6 linked regions of the Homo sapiens genome follow. The protein of the gene in region 3 interacts with the protein of the main gene of each other region in a pairwise test. Each region holds a gene or a part of one and is shown on either strand. Other genes may lie near its edges. The genes, in order: CCDC102B, MTUS2, SLIRP, AMOT, DMRTB1 and EXOSC8.

Evidence for each region.
Region 1: the proteins of SLIRP (region 3) and CCDC102B interact in binary tests that used the Homo sapiens proteins (3 or more experiments, as listed by UniProt).
Region 2: the proteins of SLIRP (region 3) and MTUS2 interact in binary tests that used the Homo sapiens proteins (3 or more experiments, as listed by UniProt).
Region 4: the proteins of SLIRP (region 3) and AMOT interact in a two-hybrid assay, tested with the Homo sapiens proteins (one large-scale study listed by BioGRID).
Region 5: the proteins of SLIRP (region 3) and DMRTB1 interact in a two-hybrid assay, tested with the Homo sapiens proteins (one large-scale study listed by BioGRID).
Region 6: the proteins of SLIRP (region 3) and EXOSC8 interact in a two-hybrid assay, tested with the Homo sapiens proteins (one large-scale study listed by BioGRID).

Annotation. Positions count from the first base shown.
Region 1 is NC_000018.10:68,895,580-68,899,079, reverse strand, and holds part of CCDC102B (coiled-coil domain-containing protein 102B), read right to left. Parts: intron 1,862-3,500; coding exon 1,652-1,861; intron 1-1,651. UniProt on the Homo sapiens protein: During interphase, forms fibers at the proximal ends of centrioles to maintain centrosome cohesion. During mitosis, dissociates from the centrosome following phosphorylation to allow centrosome separation. Contributes to CROCC/rootletin filament formation.
Region 2 is NC_000013.11:29,502,339-29,506,447, forward strand, and holds the end of MTUS2 (microtubule-associated tumor suppressor candidate 2), read left to right. Parts: intron 1-654; coding exon 655-868; 3' UTR 869-3,609; downstream 3,610-4,109. UniProt on the Homo sapiens protein: Binds microtubules. Together with MAPRE1 may target the microtubule depolymerase KIF2C to the plus-end of microtubules. May regulate the dynamics of microtubules at their growing distal tip.
Region 3 is NC_000014.9:77,711,103-77,714,600, reverse strand, and holds part of SLIRP (SRA stem-loop-interacting RNA-binding protein, mitochondrial isoform 1 precursor), read right to left. Parts: intron 1-3,498. UniProt on the Homo sapiens protein: RNA-binding protein that acts as a nuclear receptor corepressor. Probably acts by binding the SRA RNA, and repressing the SRA-mediated nuclear receptor coactivation. Binds the STR7 loop of SRA RNA.
Region 4 is NC_000023.11:112,774,832-112,778,331, forward strand, and holds the end of AMOT (angiomotin), read right to left. Parts: 3' UTR 46-3,500; downstream 1-45.
Region 5 is NC_000001.11:53,457,967-53,462,198, reverse strand, and holds the start of DMRTB1 (doublesex- and mab-3-related transcription factor B1), read right to left. Parts: upstream 2,801-4,232; 5' UTR 2,746-2,800; coding exon 2,169-2,745; intron 727-2,168; coding exon 554-726; intron 1-553.
Region 6 is NC_000013.11:37,006,950-37,010,114, reverse strand, and holds the end of EXOSC8 (exosome complex component RRP43), read right to left. Parts: intron 3,141-3,165; coding exon 3,044-3,140; intron 2,059-3,043; coding exon 1,938-2,058; intron 1,387-1,937; coding exon 1,280-1,386; intron 932-1,279; coding exon 816-931; 3' UTR 501-815; downstream 1-500. Other genes in the region: SUPT20H (transcription factor SPT20 homolog), read left to right, coding at 306-443. UniProt on the Homo sapiens protein: Non-catalytic component of the RNA exosome complex which has 3'->5' exoribonuclease activity and participates in a multitude of cellular RNA processing and degradation events.

The sequences.
Region 1 (3,500 bases), on a different chromosome or scaffold from region 3:
CAGTCTTCTAAGTGATCAGCATACCCACTGACTTAGACCTTTGAGGATCCTCTCAGTTTCCAAGTTCTGCTTAGTCCCAGCCCAAATAACTACATTGTCAAAGAGACCAGGTCTGGACTCGGTGTGCCCTGATGACAGGTTACGCCAATGCCAGCTCCAAACAGGTCTCAATTTTTCCCGAAAGATATACTTTATATTAATACATTTTGATACAACTAGAAAGGTGCCAAAATCAAATATAATCAATTGCTTCTTAATCTGTGTCCCCTTCCACTTTATTCTTAGCAATCACTATAATGTTTTATTTATAAAAATTTGTGTGTTTGACTCCCTATATAGACTCTAAGCCCATGCTGGGTGGGGATAATGATTCATTGATTAATATTCTCATTACCTGCATATAGAACAGTGACTGACACAGAGAATAATACGAATAAATGTTTGTCTTGTTTGAATAAATCAAATAAAAAGTATTTCTATAATCAAACCACAGTCCATAATTGAGATAATTCTGCACTTTTTAGAGTAGAGATCTCCAAAATAAGATGTCTACAGATTTATCAGTGTACATATGTCAGAATCAAATACATTATTATGGATAGTTTATGAATCAATATAATAGAAAATTATGGTCACGGACTATAACATTTAACTTTAGATATTTGCATTGCTAGGTCATGAAACACTAATACAATTTAATCTTGCATTTGCAATAAATCCCTAGATTCATGAAAGAATGATGAAATAATATGGAATTCAATTTTTCTGGCCATTTAGGTTTTAGAGCTTATGTGAGTATGAATGACTTAAATATCTCAAAACTATGAACTTATCAAATTCACCTTTTAAAACTGTTAAAGAAACTGAGTGAGAAATAGAATTGTGCATTAAGATGCTATATATAATTGAAAAATAGAAACAAGGTAAATATAATTTACAGCACATTGACACGAACCCACATTAAAACTATAAGACTGCCATTAAAAGCACATTTAAAAATCTGTAAACTATCAAAAAAATGTCCGTCTATAGCATAAACTATATCTACTGGCTTGGGGATAAAACACATCCAAAATTAAATTTCCCAAATTTAAATTCTGAATGTTATCCTGGTTTTAAGATTTATACCACAGGCTGGAAAAATTATTTGAAAAATTATGCATTTCATTAGCTCAAAAATAATCGTTCTGAAACTGACAAAAAAGAACCAGAAAGCAGTGAGTTTCAGCTAAATTTAAATGTTTATGCAGATACTTACCATAGCTACCAGCAAATGCTTATTGTATAGTCGCTTGAATTAATGAAAAAATCTTTATTGGAAATAAGATCATTAGCTTAGAAAATACTGAGACAAAGCTTTAATAAGAAACAAAAAACCAGAAAGTTCTATTTCTTACTTCATTTTTCTTCTTCCTTTTGGAAATCTTGAAACTGTCTGAAGATTTGTCATATTTTAACATTTGACACACTTTGTTTCAGATGCATGAACGTTATTTTACATCCTAGTGGGCAAAAGAGCAAGGAGTATCAGGTATTAGCTGGCACAAAAGGAAATATCCAAATGTGGAGGCGTGTACGAGTGAAGACAGACTCTGCGTAGGCATCAGAGTGAGATTAGACAGTGAGAATTTGCTCCAAGGAGCACCCATACCTGGTTTTTTTCTTGCAGATCAATTTGTGACATCTTGAAATCAGGACTTTGAGAGTTTGCACTTAATCTATTTTTCTTATCCAAAAGCTCTTCCATTTCTTTCACCTGGATCTTCAGCCTTCTATTTTCTCTCTCCAGTCCCTGCTTTTCTCTTTCAAGTATTTCCCTCTTGTCCCACTCCGAGGTATTTTCAGCTTGCAATCTCTCTAGCTACACACAGAAAACACAAAGAAGCAGCATGCAGCATTTGCAATTGCCAAAAGATAATGCCACCCACAACCAGACTCCCATTAAGAAAAGTTCATGGATATGTCCACTGATACAATTTTAAAAAGAAAATTCTATTTGTTTGAAAACATGAGAAAAATACAAAAATCCTAAGATCAGGCCAAACCGTAGATAAATATACTTTTCCTCTTGGTTCATGTAACTATCTCTACAGCCATATGTACCATATTTTTCAAATATATGTGTCAAGTGAAGAACTGCTGCTCTTGGGAACATTAATCTCCACTCTCAACTGATAAACATTCTCAGTGGAGAAGACACAATATCATTTCATGGGCAATTTTGATTGGATATATTTCATTTATTCATTCACTCAATTATCTAGGGAATAGACAGATGCTATATGGATCTCTCTATCTCTATCTCTCTATCTCTCTATCTATGCAACATTTGCAGTTGCCAAAAAGTAATGCAAAAAGTAATTTAATTTTATATTGAAAAAATATATATAATTTATCATTTTATATTTTAAAATTTTACATTAAAACATTTTCAACATTAAATTATATAAAATTCAAACTATACCACAAATAAAATCGTATTGGGACATGGCCACGCTCATTTCTTCACACTTTGCCTATAACTGCCTTCACACACAATGGGTAAGTTAAGCTGTTGAGAGAGAGACCATATAGGTAGTAAAGCCCAAAATAGTTACTTTGTGGTCCTTTACACTAAAGTTTTGTCAACCTCTGCCCTCTTCCCATGGTTCTCAACCAAGGCTGCATGGTATATCAACATGAGGAGATTTTTATTACTATCAATGACCAGAAGCCTACTCTAGAAATTCTGATTTAAGATAATTTTAATATCTCCTTTGGTTTTTGTTATTTTAATGTCTTTAAGTTTTAAAGAGGCAATATCAAATGTATTTATTTTCTGCAGTTTTATTACATCTAAGTGCTTATTATTATGAGATGAAATTATATTCGTCTGCTATAATTTTTCTGTGGACATTGTAAGTAGAAGTGAATAGTAGCTTTTTTGTCTCTAAATTATAGTCCTGAGCTATGCATTCTAATGTGACTTCACCATTTATTCTCTGGATAAGCTTAGTCAGGTAACTTCATCTACCCCAATGTAGACAACTTATTTAATCTGACAAGGTTTGTGAGAAGTGAAATTAATCAAAGTAATTAGAAAGCACTTTGTCTAGCAATGTAACACTTAAAGGAGAAACACTGTGGTAATATAAATTTTTTAAATGTATGTTTCTCTCATATATTTAGGCATATGGATATCGAGACATCAATGTAATTTATTGCATAAATCTATACAGCAGAGTAACTCTTTACAGTAGAAAATCTATTAGAATCTCATCCTGGTCCCACCATTTACTCATTGTCTAATTCTGGACAAGAAATTTATTATCTTATTAAGTTTTCTTACTAGTAAAATTAGTATGATACCATACATATAATACCATAAATACAATAGCACAAATACCATATTTGTGGTATTGTAGGGACAGAAGAGGGTCAACTACTCAAAATTCCTTGCAAACTATTTAGGATGATTAGAGTATGAGGCATTTTAAAAATATCTCAAAAGGATAAAAATT
Region 2 (4,109 bases), on a different chromosome or scaffold from region 3:
TTTCACCCACCAGCCTTTATCGGCAAACATTAACTGAGCATCTGTTACGTGCCTAGCACCAGCTGGATGCTGGGAGTTCAGCATGCAGAGCCTTGGCCTCTGTCCTCCGGAGCTCCCAGTCTAGCAGGCAGACACAGACCCCTAGAGCAGCATTTCCAGCAGGGGAGGACACCTGCCATCGTGGAGGCACAAGCCTGGGGCAGGGAGGCCAGGAGAAGGCACCCCCAGCTTCCTGGCAGTCTCAGGAAGGCCCGCGGCTCTTCACTGCTATTGTGCTGTTGTCATTGTCAATTGCCAGCTGCGCGGCTGTCTCTCCTTTCGGAGCTTCCGGGCAGCATACCCACTCCAGCTCTCCGCTTCCCTCCTTTCAGTCGCTGGCCTTTGCTCTGTCCAGTGGACAGCCAGTGCCTCCCCTGACCGGGCAGAGGGCCTGTGGGATGATGGGTATTGGCCAGAGAGGCTCTGGGAACAGATGTGTCATTGGGCCAAATGGAAATCATGATTCAACCAAAGTTCTTGGTCACTGGGTCACCCTGGTCCCTGTTCTCCCTGCGGTCATCATGGCCTCCTCCCTTTGCCCTGCACCATTGTCCTGACCTCAGGTTCAGTGTCCACTAGCATGATTGCTACTTATTTGTCATTGTGCCCATGCAGACAGCTGTCGGAGGAAAATGCTAACCTCCAGGAATATGTTGAGAAGGAAACCCAGGAGAAGAAGAGATTGAGCCGAACCAATGAAGAGCTGCTTTGGAAGCTCCAAACTGGGGACCCGACCAGTCCGATTAAACTCTCGCCCACATCTCCCGTTTACCGCGGCTCCTCCTCGGGGCCCTCCTCTCCGGCCAGAGTCAGCACAACACCCAGATGACGCCACTACACGGCCTGCGGGAGCTCCGGCTTCTCGTCCTCCGGTCTCCACCCTGAGGGAGCACCGACCCGGTGCCGCCGGAGCTGGCCCTGTGCGCATGCTCAGTAGCTGCGAATGCATCCTAGGCGCGTCCTCCTCTGATCCCCGTGTAAGACTGCCCTGGTGTCGGCACTTAGGAATGTGTAAATGGTAAAGTCTGATGTGCAAACGTTTTACCATAGTTAGAGCCAAAAGAAAGACACTTGCAATTGTTCTTGAGCAATGAACTTTCACTGCAGAATTTCAGGTTAGTTACAAAAAGCTCAGTTTTCAATATACATTGAATAATCATTGTGTACTGCACCGATATGTGTGTATATTTAGATATACGTATATACACATGCTGCGGTTCTGAATTTCATTTTTTATAACATGAAGTGCTGACATATTTTAGTGAAGGTCAGCAGTTTTCTAACTTGTGCCTAAGAATTATTGGGAAATGAAAATGCATTTCTATCTAGCTTCCCAGGAATATTTCTACCCAAAATAGAAAAAGGAAAAAAAAAAAGATACAGAGAAGAAGCGCCTTTCAACTCACCACCAAGTGGTACTCTCTTTAACACGAACACCAGCTATTTGTGAACGGTAACTGCCTTTGGAACAATCAGCTTCTCAGTCAACATGATGTGAGATCACTATTATTCCATTCGCAAGTTTTAATTATTGATACTCCTGTCATGAGCGGATAAGGGAGAGCAGTGGGAAACCCTAAGGGGGTTTAGCAGTTTTGCAGATGTTACCCATGACAGTGACTCATCTCTGATAGTCTTGTAAACACAAGTTTTGCTTTTTTCCTAAATGGCATCTCAGACTCGGTCATTAAGCTATTGTTGCACCCTCCGGAAAACATGGCAGAGCATGACCTTTGAGTAAGAGTGAGGATGACCTTGCAGATGACTGTGCCCATTCGCGCTCCATCCTCATGAAGGAAATTGCTGCCAAGGTCTGTATTTTGACCAGGCACAGAGGGGGAACATCACTCCAGCTTTCCATGTGGTTCACTCTGATGCGATGCTGTAAATGATCAACTCTTTGAAATAGGACCCTCAGGCCCCCATTTCCTAGCAGCCCCCCTTCAGTTTGGTTCTACAACTCAACCCCTTCACTGCACATTGAGATGGCTCAGGGGTTCTAGCAGGGGCTTCCAGAAAAAAAAAACACCATTTCTGTCCCGGGGGACCAGTTCTGAGCTGTGCTAGATCATCACACGACCACCCAGAAACCCACTTGCACTTCCTGCTGGATGATCAGGCAACGCTGCTGCTGACCGTGCTCCCATCTTAGACCCAGAAGGTTCTCCCAAACAGAGGAGCCCAGTGAAACAGCCAGCCAGGGGGCACCAGCTCCTGGACTGGCATCTGTCTCTAAAATGGTAGAATTAGGATATGAACAGTACTCATGTAGTGGTGTGGAAGATTAGGAGCATGATACACAAAAGGAAGAAGTAGTTTTAACAGATATGGTGATGATGATGATGCCCTTGTTTCCTGTATGTGACAAAGACCCTGCACTTTCTCCCTGAGACCCCCCCAAAATTGTCCTGAGCACAGGCCTGTCTTTGAGCGTGCCCAAGGCGAGAAGAACCATGAGGGGGTCCTGCAGGGGCCGGAGCCATGGAACGGGGAAGAAAACAGCCCGCGGACGGGGTCGGCTTGTCCAGGGCACGCCTGCTCGGCACACGTGTTGCCAACGTGAAGGCAGACATGGTCCCTGGCCCTAGGATGAGTCCACGCTGGGCTTCCGGGCCTCAGGTGCATCTCCAGCCAACCTCCAAGGGTCTTGCTCCTTCTGGGGACGTACACAGTAAATCCACATGGAAACACCACCATTTCTCTTTGCTTTAGTGGCTCTGCATGATACTGTGATATTGAGTTGGGCATTCCATTAGAGTAGATCTTGCCACATTGACTAAATACACAAGTATTTATTCTAGTAGCAGGCACAACCTGCAAACACAAATTCAGTTACAGCTTAGCTGTCCGAATTAGGAACCGCTTACATAGCCGCACCTGCTAAATGCAGTTACACAGCAATACTGACTTCCGTGTGATGCTAGAACGTGGTACAGTGTATTAGGCTGCTGTGGTCAGAGTTGTAGCATCGTTAGCACTAAGTAATTCCTCATTAGGTGGACTTCGGTGAGAGCTTTGCCCTAACCTGCCCTGACCTTGGGTACTTGAGCTAATTTCCACGTGGCCCTGGCTTCGTGGTTTGTTTGTTTTTTTTCTTTTGTTACGGACACCCATCATGTATGGCTCCTCATCTGAGCCATCACCGCTCCCGAAACACATGGGGCGGCAGCTGCTGTGCCTCCTTCTCAATTCTTCCACCCCCCCACACCATCAGAATTCGGATTTCTCTCCACGTGGCGTCTGCCTCTGTCCCCTTCCAGGCTGGAGCGACGTTTCCACGTTCGGATGCTGCAGCCTCTGCACCTGCCTCAGACAGACCCACCAGATACCACCTGTCTCTTCGTGGCATTTGGGAGATGCGTGGGCGGCCTGCCCCCCGACCGCCGCCCCTGCCCACCACATGCTGGGACAAGGTTCTGGCTGGATGTCAGAATGGATGGGGGTGGGGGCAGCCCTGGCCGTGATTAGTTGAATGAATGGGGTCACAACATCCCTTTTCCTGCCCCTACAGTTTGTGTTGCATATTTGTGTTTAAAGCCTATTAAAATAAACTTGAGGGACTTTCTGCGATATCTACTTGATGTAACTGGAGACCTGTCCCTCTCAGGCTGGGGATCCCAGGCAGGGAGGCAAGGGGGGTGGCGTTTGCAGGCTGGACCCCTTTTCTGTGTGTGCCGGGGTTGGGTGATGGTCCGTGAGAGAAGTCTTGTAGAGACCCCCTCTCCCCTGACTCCGCAGGTCCCAGGTCCCTGCGCCCACCCCTCCAGCCTGGGGGCTTGAGCAGCCCCTCCCCTGGACTTGGGAGCTCAGTGCCTCTGCTCTGCAAGGCCGGGTGCGCTGGAGTTGGCTGGAAGGAGGACATAAAAGGTCATTCACTCATTTCAACCTGAAAGTGCTTGCTCCCCCCATCCCGATGGCCTTCAGTTTGGGCTGCAGCCGGTTTAGCCAGCTGGACCTCGAAGTGTCCCACAGGTGTCTGGCACCATCACAAGGGAGACAGCTGGGTTCGCAGGTTCCCTGTGGTGGTTTTGCAGGGTCTGTGGGAGTGGCAGCTATTTCAGCGAGATCAG
Region 3 (3,498 bases):
AAAACATAGGCCAGGTGCAGTGGCTCAATCCCAGCACTTTGGGAGGCTGAGGTGGATGGATGGCTTGAGGTCAGGAGTTTGGGACCAGCCTGGCCAACATAGTGAAACTCCATCTCTACTAAAAATACAAAAATTAGCTGGGTGTGGTGGCCCATGCCTGTAGTCCCAGCTATCTGGGTGACTGAGGAAGGGGGATCACTTGAACCCAGGAGGCAGCGATTGCAGTGAGCTGAGATCACGCCTCTGCACTCCAGCCTGGGCGACAGAGCAAGGCTGTCTCAAAAAAAATAACTCAGTCCAGGTGTGGTGGCTCATGCCTGTAATCACAGCACTTTGGGAGCTGAGGTGAGTAGACTGCTTGAGTGCGGGAGCTCGAGACCAGCCTGGGCAATATGGTGAAGCCCCATTTCTACAAAGAGTACAAAAAATTAGTCAGGTGTGGTGGCACACGACTAATCCCAGCTACTCAGGAGGCAGAGGCAGAAGGATCCCTTGAACCCAGGAGTTCAAGCCTGCAGTGAACTTGATTGTGCCACTGCACTCCAGCCTGAGTGAGAGAGAGAACCTGTCTCAAAAAAGGAACCAGGATTTCCAACTAGAGTACAATGAATGGAACAAAAAAATATTTTTTTTGTCATATTTTATTTTGTTTTACCAACATCAAAGCCGCCTTTTATTTAAATCTAAGATCTATTCTTTGCAGGTCCTATTTTATTTATGGACCAATAAAAATCTATTCATTTTTTTGCAAGGAACTTTTTATTTAAATGCTCTTGAAAAAATTGAAGTTTTCAAACTTACAGAAAATATTTCATGTCCATAATACATGTGCCCAACTTTTCTATTCAACTATATAAAATTCCATTGCATCAGTGACTTAATATCTAATCAATCCCAGTGATGAACATTTAAGTTTCTTCTTCTTACTTGACATTAAATAATGCTGCTTTGGAATATTCTTGACCACACATTTCTGTAGGATAAATTCTTAGAAAAGTAACCGCTAGATCAAAGCAAATATAAATTCTTAACTTTGGTATTTTGCCAACTACACAACAGAACTGAAGGTACCAGTTGAACTTCTCAACAACTTGAGTGCCAGATTCCCTACACCTTCACCGGCACTATATATAACTAATCTGTTAGTCTTTGGGAGTCAAGTAACATTAAACCAAGAATTAAGAATTTAAGTTCCTTTATGTTGTTATTTTACCACAGCCCTTACAGTGCTGCAAGGAAAAAAGGGTTTCAGTGAAGTGTGTGTGAACTCTATGTACTCACATCACACCCTAAAAAAGCCCACAGAAAAATACAGCCCAGGATAAATTTATAGGCTGATTTCTAAACCCTCACAAGAAAGCAAAGGAAATGTAATTAATATAAAAATATTGTTTTATTAGTTATAAATCTAAAAAAGAAAATGGTACTCAATGAAGATAAAACTTAAAATATCCTCTGCCAATTATTAGAAATCTCAAGTCCTTATTAGAATACTGTAGTAGGCAGAATTCTAAGATGGGCCCCATGATCTCCATGCATTCCCCATGTTACACCCTATATAATCTCCTCCCCTCCTTGGGTGGAGGAGAAACCTGACTTGCTTCTAACCAAAAGAATACAGCGAAAGTAATGGGATGTCACTCCTGTGATTATGTTCTGTATAAGATGCCATCTTAAGCAGACTGGAGAAGCCCTTGCTGGCTTTAAAGAAGCAAGCTGCCATATTGTAAGACAGCCTACAGATAAACTAGGTAACAAGGAACTGCAGGGAGTTCCTAGGTGAGAGCAGCTCCCAACTCAGAGCCAAAGGTCAACAAGAAAACAGACCTCAGTCCTACAGTTAAAGATGAATTATGGCCGGGCATGAAGGCTCACACCTGTAATCCCAGCATTTTGGGAAGCCCAGGCGGGCGGGTCACTTGAGGTCAGGAGTTCGAGACCAGCCTGGCCAACATAGCGAAACTCCATCTCTACTAAAAATACAAAAAATTAGCCGGGCGTAGTGGCGGGCGCCTGTAGTCCCAGCTACTCAGGAGGCTGAGGCAGGAGAATGGCGTGAACCCAGGAGGCAGAGCTTGTGGTGAGCCGAGATCGCGCCACTGCACTCCAGCCTAGGCCACAGAGTGAGACTCCGTCTCAAAAAAAAAAAAAAAAAAAAAATTAGCCGGTCGTGGTGGCGCATGCCTGTAGTCCCAGCTACTCAGGAGGCTGAGGCAGGAGAATGGCTTGAACCCAGGAGGCAGAGGTTGCAGTAAGCTGAGACTGCACCACTGCAACTCCAGCTTAGGCAAGGGAGAAAGACTCCATCTCAAAAAAAAAAAAAAAGGAATTTTGCCAACCACATGAGGGAGCTTGCAAGTCAGTCTTTTTCCCCAGTTGACCCTTTGATGAGACACACCACAGCCCCAGCTGACACCTGGAATATATAGCTATGTGAGATCCTAAGGAGAGGACCCAGCTAAACTGTGCTCAGCTGTGAGAGATGTGTTGTTTTTGAGCCATTACGCTTGTGGTATTTTGTTATACAACAATAAAAAAACTAACACAAATACCTATGATAAAGCTTTTTCACTTTTTAATCAAGTATCACTCAAAATGTAATCAATAAAGACTGTAGGCCGGGCACAGTGGCTCACGCCTGTAATCCCAGCACTTTGGGAGGCCAATGCAGGAGGATTGCTTGAAGCCAGGAGTTCAAGATCAGCCTGGGCAACATGGCAAGACCCCCATCTCCACAAAAATAAGCCAGCACAGTGGCTCACACCTGTAATCTCAACATTTTGGGAGGCCGAGGTGTGCGGATAGCTTGAGCCCAGGAGTTCGACGAGACCAGCATAAGCAACATGGCGAAACCCCATCTCTACAAAAAATACAAAAATTACCCAGGTGTGGTGGTGCATGCCTGTAGTCCCAGCTACTCAGGAGGCTGAGGTGGGAGGATCACCTAAGCCTGGGAGGCAGAGGTTGCAGTGAGCCATGACTGCATCACTGCACTCCACCTGGGGTGACAGAACAAGACCCTGTCTCTTAAAGAAAATGAAAATTAAAAAAATTTTCCAGTCTGGACAGTATGGCGAAACCCTGTCTCCACTAAAAAATACCAAAAAAGTTAGCTGGGCATGGTGGCACATGTCTATAGTCCCAGCTACTCAGGAGGCCAAGGCAGGAAGATCACTTAAGCCTGGGAGGCAGAGGCTGCAGTGAGATCAGGCCACTGCACCCCTGCAGGGGGACAGAGCGAGACCCTGTTGCAAGATAAGAATTTTTTAAAACACTTTAAGCTTTTTTTTCAACAATTTTTGTGAGTGTATAGTAGGTGTATATATTTATTTGGGTATATATTTATATATATTTATATATTATTAGGTGTATATATTTATATATTTATATATATAAATATGTATATTTATTATGGAGTACATGAGATGTTTTGATATAGGCATGCAATGTAAATTAAGCACATCATGGAGCATGGGGTATCTATCCCCTCAAGCATTT
Region 4 (3,500 bases), on a different chromosome or scaffold from region 3:
TAAAGCCTCTGTCGGGTAAACACCAAAGCATTTTCCACACGGTACTGCATTTTAAAATAGCTAACTTTATTGTCAGTGAAAAGATAGGCACAAAGTGGATTTAAACCTGCTTAACTTTATTGGAACTAGCTCAGTTGATTACAGAATGGGGTCACAATCATTAGGGGACCACATACATTTTAAACCAAAGGCGATTCTTCTCTAGCCATCTGCCAACCCCAGCTATCCATTTTACAAACACATGCCATTAATCACAAGGGAGGCCAGAAGGAGGTTTCATGGCTCCATGTAACCCATCGTTGCTACTGGAAAAAAATAAACAAACTCCCGACACTTGTCCTACTGATGATGGATGGCACTTGGAAGACATATTTCCAAGAATCGTGGCAGGCTGAAATTGGTGGCAATTAGCCCACAGCTGATACCTTCCTTTGAAAACATTTTCAGTAAGAATGCACACGTTTTAAGTAACATATTCCATATGCACATAAGCAATTGAGATAATAGGAGACTGTGTAGCTAACAGATATGAGAATATAATTGATCAAAGTTAGTGCATATGTATACACTTTAAGCTGCCGCATTATGAGGGTTTAGGCTTGTCATAAAAAGTAGTTTGCACAATCAATCAGTTTGTTCATTTTCCAATTGTTATACCCACCCAACAGTGTAACAACAAAAAGAGAACATGATGGGTCTCTGGGTATCTTTCCTATGGCAGATGATGGCAGATATTTTAGGTTCCTGCTGTCCTATTACCTTGAAGCTCAAAAGCAGCATTAAAAGGAAATCCTTCATTAAATCAACAATCAAGATACATGATTTTAAAAGAAAGCTCAAGCTACTTTTTATTTCAAAAAAAGACTGTTAATAGGAGTTTCATATCAAGTAAAGTTTGTTCTAATGAAGTTTTTCTATACATGGAACACTGGGGTACAACTGAATTAGAAGGTCCTCAGAGATCACCAAGCAGTACAAGCTAAGACAACCTGGTCACCCTCCTTTCCTGAGGTGCCGGTAAAATGCACAGATAGGTAGGAGTCCAGAAAGATCCCCCAAATGTTATATCCACACAACTGTGAAAAGGTGGCTAATTGAGATTTCTCCCATAAACTTGAATTTTTGGAACAAAAACTAGTGGAGATCTTCTGAAAAGGCTGTATCTATCTTCTGCATAATATACTGACATACTCTTCTTCCCTCTCTTGGATGTACAATGTTATTTTAGCAAATTATCGGGGATTGGAAACTGAACAGAGAAGAACTGTCTCTGGTGTGAGAGGGTTCTGGAAAGTTCAAAATAGTACTCAGCCAAGAACTTCTTCCTTTCCCCAAAACACATGAGTCTAAAGAGATGGCTACCACACAATGTGGAATGTATGACATTTGTCACCTTGCAGAATGTGATTAAAATCATGGCTCCCAGAGCCAGCAAAAAGTCTGCCAATGTGTTATAACCATGAAAGGAGTAGGTGAAAAGTGTTTTTTAAATTATTTGGATAGAAAGTAGCTCTCCTGAAGTTTGCTACTTGCTGCTTCTACTATTTGAGTGTTTTTTTCTCCTTATGACTAAAGGGTAGTATGAAAGAGTCTTAACACAACTGCACTTTTAATTTCTATCTGAGATTCACTTTATAACTGAGGACTAATGTGTATGTAACATGATTACCTCATTATTGAAAATGTGAAAGGACTAGCTGAAAATCACATCACCCTCCTTTATGTCTCTACACACACACAGGCACACACACAAAATAATTCCTTTGGAAGATAATTAGGAAGGATACCATTCCTATACTCACAGAGGAACCCCAAAAGATTATCTAAGATACCCAATCTCCTAGAAAGAAGTGGGATTGGTTTCTCAGGGGGACATTTATGTGACTCTATGTTGAAATGCAGATCAGAAAAGGGAAAACCTTTTAAAAGGCACTGAAGGAGAGGCAAGACAGAAATTCAGTAGTTTGTCAAGACTGGACAAGCTACTCCAACCAGGTACATTTTACAAGATACATATTCCCTGGACCATGAAGATGCCTTTTCATAAAATGGAATTTAAAAAAGATAAAGAGTTTCCCAAAATAAGCATGGTGATTGGCATAATGGTTAGCTGTGTTGTATGACTTTCAAAAAGTCACTGAACCTCTCCAGTTCTCAGATTCCTCATCACTAAAATGAGGAGGTAGGGCTATATTGCTAAAGTTCTTTCCCACCACTATGGCTCATGATGTAATATATCAGGCCTACTCTTCTATTAATCTGGTTTCTAACTAAGACATCCCAAAACCTCTACCCCCAACCCTTACCTAACACCCCCCACTTCCCTCACCCTCCCTATACCCCTTAAAACTGATCTTAATGATGCTATCTGCAGATTTCTCACCTTAATGAAGGGCAGACAGGTGACACAGGGCAGGGACCTGTGGCAACTGGCATCCTTCTGTGTCCTTGGAGGCAGCCCTATGGCAAGGCTTGGAGCCATTGCCTCCTTTGATCTCTACCCACATGCACATTTCCTGCTGCTTCCCAAAGGTATTCCAAGATGGTGTCACTGACAGTGAGAAGAGGTAGTTGAGGATACTGCTGCAATCCACCTCTCCCCCGACTGCAGCATAGTACTTTGGGTTTCTCAAGCTATTCCCTTGGAGGTGATAGTCAAAAATGCCTTTTAAGACATATGCTTAGAATTTGACAAACAAAACAAGTTATTTCAAAGTAGTCACCAGAAATTCAAAGCATTCAACCTGTCAACAAAGATCCTTCCTCACTTTGCAAATGATTGGCAATTTGAGACTGGAGACCCAGCCAGTGAATCTGTGCTGTAGAAGAAATAAACACTAAGCTGATTGGTCTTACTAAATGCAAGCAAGCTGTGTTCATGGCTACACACAAACCATGGAAGTCTGCATATAGCACCCCATGCAACTCTCCATCAAGGCCTCTGATGGTCTAATTCCCTAAGAGAGAGGAAGTTGCGCATCACTCAGTTAATGTACTCTCCCAGCATCTGAAAGCAATATATTAATTATCCAAATGCATAAATTACTCCAGAGCATATATATGAATGTATGAACCTCCAGGAGGGAACCAAAAGAATCCATTTCCAAAGCACCACTGAAATGAAGACAAACACAATTCCCTGGGGCAGGGTAGCTGGGAAACTGGAAGAAAAAATTAGCTCCAGTACCCTTCTGCACCCCAAAACTCCCTACCTTTTTTCCAGCTTACATAGCTCCTGAAACTATTCCCTTTTGTAAGCCTGAGGTGAGTGCTTTCTCCAGCTGCTGCACAGGATAGTAACTATACAAAACAGCACACACTCAATTCTCTCTAGCTTCCCACTTCCAAACTACGTGTTATACACTGTCTTCCACACATACTGTGCTCTTCAATAAAAAATGATCTAGAATATGGAAAATTTAAACAAATTTAAGCACATTGAAAACGTCGATGTATAGCCACCTGTTAACAGTCCCAGTATTCGTATAAATTCAAACAAT
Region 5 (4,232 bases), on a different chromosome or scaffold from region 3:
CCTTTATTAATCTTATAAAAGGATTAAATTTCATTCTTTCAACAGGTATTTCCTAAGGTGTCAAGTGTTTGGGGGAAGGTTTCCGTATTTTTCATGACTCCGCTCAAATGCCACCTCCTCCTGAAAGCCCTCTGCAGTCTCAAGTGTGCTATACCTGTGGGCAGGGAGCCTACCTCTGGTCCTGGCTCTGCCCTAAATTTTGTGGTCCCAGGAAGGTGATATGCCCTTTCTGGAGTCCAGCAAAATGAAGGGCCCTTCTAGCATCAGCATCAGTCAAGGAAGGGGTCATCCTGAACGCTCAGAGCCTTTCAGCCCACTGCCCTGAAAAGCACAGGCCATAGCCCAAGCCGAGTGGTGCAGACTGGTCCACACGTGTGCTCCCAGAGACACACACACTGTGCCTGGGCAGTGCCTAGTCCTCCACCAGCACTCGGGGGCTGGCATGGCGTGGGCACAGTTTATGACAGCTGGCTTCCTGGGACTGAGGATCCATCAAGGCAGCAGGGGCAGACTGGGTGGAGGAAGCTGGCAAGAAGTGAGGGGTGGGACTCACCAAGCCTCCGCCTTGGTACTGGCTGCGGGACACATGCCGGAAGCCCTGCTGCAGGGGGACGCCAGGAGGGGCGTCCAGGTAGCCCAGCGGGAACGGGCAGTAGGGGTGCATGCTGGAGCCACCAGGGTACTCAGGGCCCAGTGCACGGTCCGGGTTGATGTTCAGAGGGCGCACTAAAGAACGCAAGCAAGGAGGGAAGTGTTAGACACCGCTGGGAAAAGCATCCGCAGGGCGGCCCAGGGCGGCGGGGTCATCAGCGCTGCCGTCCAAGCACAGAAAGCCCACCCCGCACTTCCTTCCGCTGGGCCCTCACTGCATCTCCATCCTCCAGCCAGCCCCACTGCTCTTGGAAAGTCCTCAGCACGGCCATCAAGCCCGCTGTGGGCCGGGGCCGCCTCCAGACCTCCCCGCTGCCCCACACACCGTCAGCCCGCACTCTGCCTCTCTGAGGCCTCAGTGCCGAGCTCCTCCTCCTCCTCCGGGTCACAGTGAACCCGGCCATGGCTCAAGCCCTGGACACTGATTTGTGTGACTCTTTGATCAACCCTGTCCCTCCCACAAGGACAAGGTCCTTGAGGGCAAGAAATGTGACCCGCGTCCTCCATCACGAATGCCTGGCTCATGGTTCGGCTCAGCCCTGCTTGTCTGTTGAGATGGAAAAAAGAAAGGTGGCTTCTCCTAGATCTGCAGTTTCAGGCCTGTGACCCTGTCAGATGGGACGTTCCCTGGGGACCTAGATTTTCCTGGAAAGTCAGGGGGGCGGGACGAGCCTGCGGGAGCCTCCGGACCAGTGCCCTGGCACACAGAGGGCAGGAGCTTGTCCAGCGTGACCCGGGCCCCCGCCTCGGCCTGAGCCCGTCCCACCACACCACCACGGGGGAGACACCAGGAAAACGCGTCCGCACCAAACCCCGGGGCTTCTAAAGCTTCAAATGTACATGTGACTTGAAACTACTTCAATACCAAAAGCTCCAAGGCACAGGGAACAATGTAATTTATGTACAAGGTGAAGGGAGAAAAGAAAGGCAACATCTTTACTGACCAACTGTTCTCGTGTGTGGAGTAAAGAAGCAGGCTCCCCTCACCTGCACGTGGGGAAACGGAGGGAAGAGGTGCGCAGGCGCACTGGGCCAGGGCGGAGCTGAGGGGAGGAGCCTCCCGACCGCGAACCGGGAGGGAAGAGTGCGCAGGCGTCCTTGCGCTAACGTGCCGGCAGGAAAATTCTGTTATTCTGGAGGAGGAGCCTCCAGCCCAAGGAAATGGCGGGAAGAGGTGCGCAAGAGCAGTAGGACTCGGCTCCTCGAAGCCTCCCCCGGAGGAGGAAGCACTGCTAAGTCGACTGGACGCCATTTTGTTCTTGCATGCCGGAATGGCACAAACTACAGCTAAATGTTAAAAGCCCTCTGAACCGCCCATTCCTTTCTGTTTCTCGTTTCCTTTTTGCGAAAAGTTACCCAATCCAAATCCCTGTTCGAAGAAGGGTTTCTCAAAGCGGAAGGTCCGTTACCCGTGGAAAAACTTCTCTCCACCCCGAACCCCTATGCCAGCTCCCCATCCGGGCTGGCCTGGGCTGCCAGCTCCGGGAGTCGACCGCGGGACCAAGGCCACGACTTACCAAAGTCGGTGAACAGTGGGCCGGGCACGGTCCGCATCGGCCTGCGCAGGTCTAGGGGGCCAGGGTAGCCACTGCCTGCGGCCTCCGCCCCAAAAGGGGGTCCCGCAAGGCTGGGCATCGCCACGGCGGCTCGCTCGCTCGGCTCCACGTGGCTGCGGCCGCCCAGAACCGGCTGGAGGGCTCTCGGGCCGGGGTTCCGGCCCCGCGGGGGCTGCTCGAAGAAGCAAGCGGCCGCGCGGCCCTCGGGTCCCGGGTCGGCGTCTCCGGAGGGAGTCCCCGGGGACAGCGGGCGGAGGCTCGCGGCCGGGACGGGGACGGGGGCGGGGGCGGCGGCCGCAGCCCCGGAGGCCTGCTTGGGCCCCTGCGCACACAGGGCCGCCTCCTGCTCCTCCTCGGCGGCCTGCGTCTTGAGCACCTTCTGCGCGGCCATGATCTTCTGGCGCTCGGAGATCAGGTAGCACTTCTCGCAGAGGCACTGCTTCCAGCGGCATTTGCCCGCGTGTCCCTTGACGGGCACCAGGAAGCCATGGTTCCTGCATCTCGAGCACTTGGGGGTGCGCACCATTTTGTCGGCCATTGGCAGGGTCAGCCTTCGTAACACAACCACCACCTCTGGGAGCTGCAGAGCAAGTGGCGCTGGGATGAGCCGCGCCCCACAAGTCCCTCGTTCTGGGGACATTGGATACACTTGTAACAAAGCGGCTCGCAGTGTGTCCCGGGAACTGCAGCAGGAACCTTGCATTTTCCCTCCTTTTGGGGGGTGCACAGTTTGGAGAGTTTCTGTGCTTTGGGTAATTAGATGCAATGGATTGGGTTGAATAAATTCTTCATGGGATGCTATTGCATGTATGTCATTTAGCTTATCTGAAGTCTTAGGCATGTAATTTTCCAAACTCTGTTCCCGCCACCGACGGAAGGTATTTGTAACTTTATGAAAGGCGGAGTGATATTCAACGGTCCACAAATTTAAAACTCGGGAGGAATGTAGCTCTCGGTGTAGAAAAATACTGTAAGAGGCAAACTGTATTTCTTCTCCCCAAAGCTGCTCCTTCTGTGGCAGTTCACTTCTCTGCCCTGCAGAGATGCTTCCAGGATATTCCAGAATATTCTCAAGAGTTCAGTGCAGTGTGATGGTTGCTCAAGGGTATGCCCTTACAGTAATTCCCGTTTCTTGAGAGTCTTGATGTAGGAATGCATTTCTGGATGTTGATGCCTTCCAAAGTGAGCATACTTAGAATATTTTAAAGTAAAATAGACAGAATATTGTAGCACTAAGCCTGGCATAGTGTCCTGTGCCTGTAGCCCTAGCTACTCGTGAGGATCACTTGAGCCCAGTAGTTGGAGACCAACCTGAGCAACATAGCGAGACTCCTCTTTCTAAAAAATTAAATAAAAAATTCTGCAAGACCCCTCTTTCTAAAAAATTAAATTAAAAAAAATTTCTAGCACTAGCTTCAGTGATTGCTTAACCTCATCATGAACTTCGTTATCCTTGTAAAACAACCCAAATCTTGGGACATCTGAAAAGTTAGCACAAACGTCATAGTTTACCCGAGGGCATTAATTGTTTTTTTTTGTTTTTTTTTTTTTTTTTGAGACAGAGTCTTGCTTTGTCACCCAGGCTGTAGTGCAGTGGCAGGATCTTGGCTCACTGCAACCTCCGCCTCCCAGGTTCAAGCGATTCTCCTGCCTCAGCCTCCTGAGTAGCTTGGATTACAGGCGCCCGCCACCATGCCCAGCTAATTTTTGTATTTTTAGTAGAGACGGGGTTTTCGCCATGTTGGCCAGGCTGGTCTTGAACTCCCGATCTCAGGTGATCCACCGGCCTCGGCCTCCCAATGTGCTGGGATTACGGGCGTGAGCCACCGCGTCCGGCCATTAATTCATTTTTTAAAAACAAATTTGTGACACCCTGAGGCATCTCTCTCTCTCTCTCTCTCTCTCTCTCTCTCTCTCTGTCTCTCTCTCCCGCCCCTCCCCCCCACCACCCCACTGCCTCCATTTCCCTCCCCTCCCCTCTCCTCCCTTCTTTGTCCAAAAAAAGGAAAAAATGGGCCACTAACA
Region 6 (3,165 bases), on a different chromosome or scaffold from region 3:
TTGCTATAAACCATCATTATACAACAAAATGGTAACTGAAGTTGCTGAGTTACTACAATATAGACTGGCAGGGCAAAGTAACAAATAATTTTGAAGTTTGCCAAGAATCATTTTTAAAGCCCTTAGCAGGCTTCTGTGCCACTGGTGCTGTTTGACTGTGCATTGTCTCAATGTGGTATAGTCCCTTTTTGTTATCTTGGTGCTTTCTCCCTTTTTCAGTTGTGTTGTTTCGTCACTCAGGAAAAGCACCTTTCTACACCTGCCTGCATTTAACATAACTCGATTTTTTTCCCTCCCTTTTGCAGCAGTTGCGATTCTTGCAGCATCAAATGGCTATGGCAGCAGCAGCAGCACAAACAGCTCAGCTACATCATCATCGGCATACAGGCAGCCAGTCAAAAAGTAAAATGAAGAGAGGCACGCCAACCACTCCAAAATTTTGAGTCTTGCATTACTTTTTGTTCCTTTTTTAAAAACACAAGAGCACTGAATCAAAAGAATTGAGTTTCTACTTTTTGTTTTTTTTAATGTGTCAGTATTTTACATTGCTAGATGTACAAACTTTATACAGAAGCACAACCTTATCATTTTTAAATAAAAACAGGGAAATGGTTTAACAAACTAGGGTTGGTTTGCCTAAGTCATTGCTTTTTAAAAATGGTTTCACTATACATAATATATATGGAAGTGACCTAAGAAATAATAGAAACATCTTTCAGAAGAATGTAGTTTGATATTTATTTAGTATAAAACGTTTGTGCACAGTGTTAACAAATACAATTTTTACAAATCTGTTTTGAAAATGTGGTGGCTGTTTATTTGGGTTTCATACTCTTAATTACTTCATCCATCAGTTTTTTAACTTCTTTGTGTCTTGTAACTGCTCGGCTCATACAGTCCTGAAGTTTAGCTCCAGTTAGCCCACTTCCACCTGAAAAATTATTTTGCCAATACTTTTAATCTCAGTTATCATTCCTTTTCAAAAAACATTAATGTCATGTCAAATTATAAAACAAAAAAATTGGATAATGTAAATCAGGGTACAGTCTCAAGATCTACAAGTTAGTTTCACAAGACCTCCAAGTGATTCTAATGTATGTCTTAAGTTTAAGAACCACTGACATATACCATTAAGATGGAAGAACATTTTAGGTAGCTAAGAAACTATACTAAAATTAGGTAAATAAAATATCCCATATTCTATTTGGCCCTCCCTAATTTAAGGCTCACACTGAGTTTTCATCTACATATGTTTAGGACTGAAGTGGCGGGAACATGCCTGGTTTGTGAAGACAACAGAGTTTGCCTTCCTCATCCATTACTATTGTTAAGGTTCCTGTTGCCAGATGTTCCTCCTCTCCAGTAGGGTCAACTATAAGCAAAGTGCTATAAAAAGAAAAAAATATAAGTTATCAATCCATGGAACAAATTTTACTTTAAAATACTAAACATACTATCAGCCTCCCAAGTAGCTGGAATTAACAGGCACACGCCATCACACCCAGCTAATTTTTGTGTTTTTAGTAGAGACAGGGTTTCAACATGTTGGCCAGGCTGGTCTTGAATTCTTGACCTCAGGTGATCCCCTGCCTCAGCCTCCCAAAGTGCTGGGATTACAGGCATGAGCCACCATGCCCGGCCCTGCTCTTCTATTTCTGAACGTGCTAAAATCCTTGGAAAATATTGAAGATAGCTTCAGATAAATCTTATAGTGAAAGAATTGGAAATTAACATTACACAGGTATAAGTAAACCAAGGAACAGGTAATAATTGTGCAGTGACTAGAAATAATTGTGCAGGGACAAGTAGAAACTCAAGTGTCCAGGGAAAACTAGGATGTAGGGTCACCATAGCACTTCCTAAAGAGTTAGAATGCTGAACATCAATTACCCTAATCTTAAATATAGAAAATTTTAAAGTAAGTTTGATTAACTTACTCATCAAACACAGCAAAGGAAGTTGCAACTGGATGAGTTCTAATATTCAAATAACTTTTCTTCTTTAAATTAACTTCTGCTAAAGCAGTTTCTTCATTTATAGTAACTTCAGGCAACTGTACTAAGAAAAGGCAAATTTGTAAAGTAAGTAAGTCTCTAAGAAACAAATGATTTCTAAGCTTTTTTTTTTTTAATTCACCTTTCCCTCTATTTAACTTGCCCAGAACATTTCTTTTTAAAAAGCACCTTACAGCCACTAAGGTAAATATAGAGGATATACATTGCTTTTCACAACATCTGACATTCCTACCTAGTGCTTATTGCATAATTTTTTTTTAAGTTTAAGAAGTCAATGATTTTTTTTTAAATTTATATCTGCCAGGTACTGTTTTAAGCATTTTCATATTTTCATTGTATTCACCTAATCAATACTCTTACAAAGTAAGTACTATTATCCCTATTTTATTATAGATAAGGAAACTTCAGCACAGAGTGAGAGAGCCAGGAATCTACTTTAACCAGTCTATTATAATATTTTGCTGACTTCATTTTCTACCTCCAATTCACTTAACCACTCTACTATAATATTGCTGTGCTAACTTTATATTCCACCTCCAATTATTTGTTCCTACCAATTCATCATTCATCAATGATAGGGAATATGCACAAGTTATTGAAATCTGTAACTAATCAGTCAACCTAGACTCCTTGCTAAGAAACTTCCCTATTACTATGGCCTCACAGTAAAAACAACAGAATCCATTCTACTTCTTTTGGCAATATCACATAAAGAACTATGAGGATACTGGCAGATCTTCACCAATCACCTAGCCAGAAGTTACAACTCTTGTCTCCTTCTCCCACCAATATTAACACTATTTTGGAAAGGACTGAAGTCCTAACTTAAGTAGATGGGTACAGTCAAAGCAGCACTCTAAAGAGCATTCAGTTAGAGAATATACAACTATCAACTATATTTGGAAAGTCATGTCAGCATTACATTCATTAATTTGGAAGCATACGAAAGCAAATGTACATTAAAAGTTTCACAAAACAACATTCTAACCCATGAGTGGGAATATTGCCTTTTTTGTAAGGCTGCTTACCATTTTTTAAAGCCGCTAGCAAAGCAAATGTGCAGGCATCCAAAATGTTTCCATCGTAGTCGAGGCAAATGAGATCACAGTATAGAACCCAGACAAGCTAAAATAGAATTAAACACAAAAGG